Linked DNA regions of Homo sapiens: region 1 is linked to region 2. The links come from fine-mapping of genetic effects on gene expression. A gene starts in region 2. The other region holds a variant in brackets. All regions are shown on one strand. Distances are from middle to middle. Region 1 overlaps LINC02268 (long intergenic non-protein coding RNA 2268). Region 2 holds the start of LINC02268 (long intergenic non-protein coding RNA 2268).

Region 1 (2,935 bases), 97 kb after region 2:
CTGGAATATCGTATCTATCTCTATTGTCACATTTCTTAAGTTATCTTGAGTAAAACTACAATCCCTCTCACATAAATAGATACACATACTAACAAACAAACAACCAAAACACACTCCTGGTGAAGCACAGAAAATGTTTTTCTTTGTAGAAGCTGAAATCAGGAACTTGGGGTCTGACAGATCCAGGTTTGAGTACCAGCTCTGCCACTTACATACAGAGTGACCTTGGGCAAGTCAGTCCCTCCAGTCCAGGCTAGTAATATTCAATATTACAGGGTGTTTGTGAGAATGAAATTAGGTGACATATGAAAATGATCTAGCATGGTAATTTGCACCTGATCAATGCTCGGTAAATAGTGACTATTATTATTATTTAAAAATCATCAGGCACAAAATTGTAATTCTTTACACTTGCCTTAATTACCTCCACATTTCATCATGACAGTTATATTTTCTACCACCCTGCTGCACTCTTTAAACTCCTTCCAGTATTAGCATCATTCTGTGCACAACAAACTCAAGAGTTTATCCACATGTACAATTTGTTTTGGGGAGAAATACTATCTGTGGATGACAGTGGAAGGTTAAGATTGCAGAGGAGATAGAAGGAAACAATAAATATCACCATGTCTTCGGCTTGTCTTCAAGCTGTGGACAATCCAATTGAGGAATCAACAAGTGCTCTTTCCTTTAAAGTTCTAAAAATATTTGACAAAGCAATGCATCCACAAGCAACCTAATGTCAGACAAGCTAGCTACTAGTTGGATAGAAAAGTGTGAAATGGCTCCCTTCCTTCCATATTAAACTTGCTGATGCCTTAATAAACACCACCCCCCAAGATTGCTGTTCATTCAGCTTTGTCTAGAAATCCAGTGACTGTAATCACTTCATTATTTCCTCCAACATCTGGAAGGATATGTGGATATAGACCATTATCAGAAAGATGATTTTACTGAAAAATAATCTTAATGTTTGCTTATTATAAAGATGCATAGAATCTGGAAAGTGCTGCCAAGTGTTTTTCCATCACAGCACCTTTTAGTTCAGAGAGTTCACTTCAAACAGAAGTCAAGG[G/A]GCCATTCTCCTGTTTTTTTCTACCCATCTGCCTACTCCATCCCTTGCTCCAAGGTCCTGGCTTCTGTTTAGTAACATGCTAAGGTCAAAGGCTCTGAGACTTTTATTCTTGGCTCCATTTATAGGAATAGATAAATTCATCCTAGGAACAAGCTCAGGTTGTCTTTGGAGATTTTTCCAGAGTGAACTATTCGAACAGTAAAAATATCAATGACAATGAAACAAACATCTTTCTCTAAATTTTACCATGTCTAATTGTTTAACTTCAGTGTGTCATTATGCTAAAAGTTCTTCCTTACTATGGGTGAAGAAGGGAAGGAATGAAGTGTTTGAAGGAAATTTAAAATTTTGTCCTGCCACATAATACGCTGGAAATGAAGGGAATAACATCCTCTGATTCTTGCCTCTGGCCTCACTGAAGAGACTTCCTAGCTGTTGCCCAGCTATCAGAAGTGTTTCATAACAGTATGAAAAGAATTTTGTTGTCCATACTCTAAAAAAAGCATGAGGAAAGCAATGTTTTGTAATAGTTCCAAATGAAGTAGAGGCTGCTCCCTTTGTGACACTCTACTATTGAGAATCCACAGCTCCTTAGCAATGAGACATAGGAGGAAGATAGACTCATCTGGTCCCAGTATTAATAATGCACTGTTTAAATTAACACAGTACATTCAGTTCAATCAAGGGTGTTAAAGTGCCTACTATATGCTAGTCATAGTAGTAAGTCCTAAGTTTAACAAAGAAAAGGTCCCTGCCTGCTGTAATTAACAGTCTAGTGAGATAGAAAGACAAGTAAACATATCATTTAAAGGCTTAAATAGAGGTGTTATAAGGTACTGCGTGAAAAAATGAAGTGTTTGGATATGTTTGTATGCATGTCTTTGGGGGAGGTTGGAGGCTTAAAGGATGTCTGGACAATGTTAAGAAGGGAGTTGAACAAAGAAACAAATACATTGATAAGCATGTTCTAGAAAATTCTCTCTCTTATATTTGTGAGTTTGCATCAGGGGAATGTCAGCAATATTTACCATGAATCTAATTGCCAGTCCCTCTGTGTGTTCATAGAATGCTAATGTGTGTACTATCCCATTCCTATGCTTGACCCATTTATTTTCTAATCTCCAGTTTGGAGAAGGAAATACTAATTTTACCCCAAGCATAATTTCATCTGTGACACACTGTGTTGTCAACAGTGAAGATGCAATCTGGGTAGAGAATATAACCTTAAGACAGTCTTCTTAGAGCAAATAAACATGTTCTTGCATTAACCACTTATTCTCTTTGGAGAGCTAATTACTCTTCCCTCAGCTGGCTGGGGCTGAGGGTGAGGGGCAAGGCTTTGCTGCAGAGAAAGTCAAATATCTGACTAAAAAGACTTTTCATCTATGTATCTGATACTTTTTAAACAATTTGCATCAGCTAAGTGTTATGGGTTTTCCATCACATTTGGAATAATGAAAATATTATGGCTGGGCACGGTGGCTTACACCTGTAATCCCAGCACTTTTGGAGGCCGAGGTGGGTGGATCACGAGGTCAGGAGTTCGAGACCAGCCTGGCCAACATGGTGAAACCCAGTCTCCACTAAAAATACAAAAAATTAGCCGGGCGTGGTGGTGGGCACCTGTAATTCCAGCCACTCGGGAGGCTGAGGCAGGGGAATCACTTGAAGCCAGGAGGCAGAGGTGGAAGTGAGCCAAGACTGCACCATTGCACTCCAGCCTAGGCAACAGTGTGAGACTCCATCTCAAAAAGTAAATAAATAAATACATAAAATAAAATAAATAAAAAAGAAAATCTTATATTTTAAGAAAATTTTATTTCTTTTTGAATTAAAACAAAATGTTCACACTTTAGTCGC
Region 2 (2,935 bases):
CCAAATAAAACTAACTGTAAAAGCAAATATCCTTGCTCCTTTGTCTAGACACCATTGCTACTTTCATTCTTGCTTTGGGCTGTGATGCTTGCTACTCCCTTTTTCTGCTGTCCCAAATTATGAAGCCCTTTTATTCATTTAAAAAGAATACCTATGCATATGTATAAATATATATATATATTTTTCCTTTTTCTAAATAACATTTTATTCATTTTGACCATGTGACTCATTCGTATGGTCAATGAGCCCAAGGTGTTGATGACTCTTAAACATGTTTCTCCTAGCATAAATATTGGTGGCAAAAAGCAGAATAATGATCATAGTTTTGAAATAGAGAATACCATTAATGTCTTTGATTTTTGAAAATGATATTTTAAAAAACAAACATGACTATGTCGTGATACCTTAAAATTCAGGCTGAAAACAATTTATTAGGTAATCCACTTCAGGTTTCTTTTGCAGGAGGATTATTTTCCATTTTCTTATGGATTATTTTCCATTTTCTTGCTAAAATCAGCAAAACATATATACATATAACAATATACCACTAGTTCATTAAAAGAACTTATTCTTTTTGTTCTCAAATCAAGCTCATTTTAGATTGACAATATCTTAATGCATTTTAGGAATATATTGTCAAGATTAAAATCTTACTTTTTATTAGCTGAAGTTGTATATATTCATTATATAAAACTGACTTATGTTGCATAGAATTAAAACCCTCCCCAGAGTTCATAGTTTTAAACAAATATGCATACATATCCAAATACATATTAAATCCAAAGCAAACAATAACTTTATGTTGACAGTGAAAAATGCAACCTTACATACATAGTCTACAAAACAACTGAAAAATTTTAAATGCCAGATATGAGGAAGCCAAAGAATTTTAACAATGAGAAATATGTTATGAATTAAAATATTCAATCTTGAAAACCTTTAAAAGTGAAAGTTGCACTGTAACTGCTTTCTAAGGTAATTTTTGCCACTTTTAGGAAAAAAGATGTTTACGTAACATTTTTAAAAGTACAATCATTTCTTACATAGCTTTATGATTGAGGATAACATTAGTATGCACATACAACATAACACACAAAAGCAAAGCTTAGAATAACATTTTAATTATGTTTTAGTGTATGTGAAATAATTTGTTTTTCTCAATTATATTCCTGGGTCAAGGCCTAAAACATTTATTTGAACCAGCTATATATCTTATTTTCATAAGGGTCTCAGGAGGCAGTAGTCATATGTTGTTACTTCAGCCCTCCACAAAGGCAATACAGTACAGATCTCTGTACTGTAAACGACAACAAGGACCAGTCACAATTTCAGTTCTTGTTACATTGATAAGACTCCTTCAGGTAAGAGATTAAAACATGCCTTTATTATTATAAGGTTAGTGACCATTTTAATGGAATAAAAAGATTATTCCTGTTGCATTGGAGATAGGAAATTTGGGATGTGAATGTATGAGGTAGGTGTCTTTTCTCTCTTGTGCCTGTATTGTTCAAAAGCTCTTTGACATTAGAAAAAGGTTAGCTCTATAATCTTAATATTAATATTTAGTATAAAATCTATGGAGAACACACATTATACAGGGAGCCAAAAAGTTCAACTCTTTTTTTAATGGAGAGAAGGTAAGTAGGTGATCTTCACAGACTAAGAGGTTTTGCCTTTTAACACCAACAACATAATACTATTTATATTTGCTCTATCATTGTGATTAACCTACCTTCCCCTTCCAAAAAAACACACTTAGCTTACTCACCTAACAGTAATGACATATATCATTTTAAAAACAAAGAATAGTTTCAAAATTAATTTTTTCTACCTAATGTGCGTGACTGATGTTGAAAAGTTAGTGAGGGTTACCCATATATTCACACATGTAAATTGTGGAAATAAGAGAGAGAGAAAAAACTCAACAGATATAATCTGTAAAGCTGTCAAAAGACTTTCAAATAGCGAATTCCTTCAGATCATATATTTCAATAGAAGTTGCTGTTTAAATAGAGGTCTCTCATTTGGTGGGAGGAGCTTTTAAAAGAAAAAATACTTGAAGATAAGTAATATTACCTTTGCCATTTGTTATGAAATAAATATATCATGAGGAGTTATGCTTCATTAAAATGTAATACTTATAGATGACAGTTTCATATGGTCAGATATAAAATGTATATATGTTTTACCAGGAAGATTATACAGTATTTTTAATCTTGATTTTTCATGACTTCTTGCAAATATGCATTTATTGCTTTCCAAACCATGCCTGGGAATGAAGGAGAAAAAATTGTTTTATCCGAAGAGTTAGCTGTTCTTCCTTGGTTCAATCAGGAGTAAGTTCTGATATCATAGAGGGGAATGTATTAAGATAATTCCTAAAATATAACTGTGCTTTTACTGTTTTGCCTATGCTGCCAGAAAGTTAAAAACATTTTGTTTCAAATAACTGTGTATGTTTAAAAGTCAAACCTATTATTTGCTATATTATTTGTCATGTGCTATAATTTGACAGAGGGGCAATATTTCTCCAAAAAGTAAAATTTTATAACCAAAGGCCATCAATTGTACAAACGACTAAGAGAATTAAATTTTATTAAGTTGGAAATGTAATTTATTCATTGTAACTGTTTTAAGAGAAATTAAGTGAGCACTTTGTATGTAGTTATCTTAAATGTTACGTGTATTCTTTTAGAAACTCTTTCTTGTTTTCCTTCTTTTCACCTTCAGTGTCCTGGCACGCGACTAGCACAAATCAAACCTTATCTGTCATAATAAACTATAGCGTTGGAAATTCTAAAGAGACTAAAAATTACTTAACGTCTTTAACATATTTGAAGTAATATTTATGAATAAGGGAGGGCTGTCCATTTTTGAGTTTCGTCGCGCCAATGGTTGAGGGATTTTCTCATTATCATCTCCTGATTCCCAGAGA

Evidence for each region.
Region 1: its variant is fine-mapped to the expression of LINC02268 in sigmoid colon (GTEx, PIP 0.95).

What each region holds. Positions count from the first base shown.
Region 1 is chr4:174,121,550-174,124,484 of GRCh38, reverse strand. The region is part of intron 1 of LINC02268 (long intergenic non-protein coding RNA 2268); the gene reads left to right. Among named protein-coding and RNA genes, the nearest start is that of LINC02268, 97 kb to the left of the region's middle. The variant G/A (reference allele first, on the strand shown) is at 1,076.
Region 2 is chr4:174,218,740-174,221,674 of GRCh38, reverse strand. It overlaps LINC02268 (long intergenic non-protein coding RNA 2268), which reads left to right and starts at 1,277. Exons shown (of 5, transcript NR_125896.1): 1 at 1,277-1,361.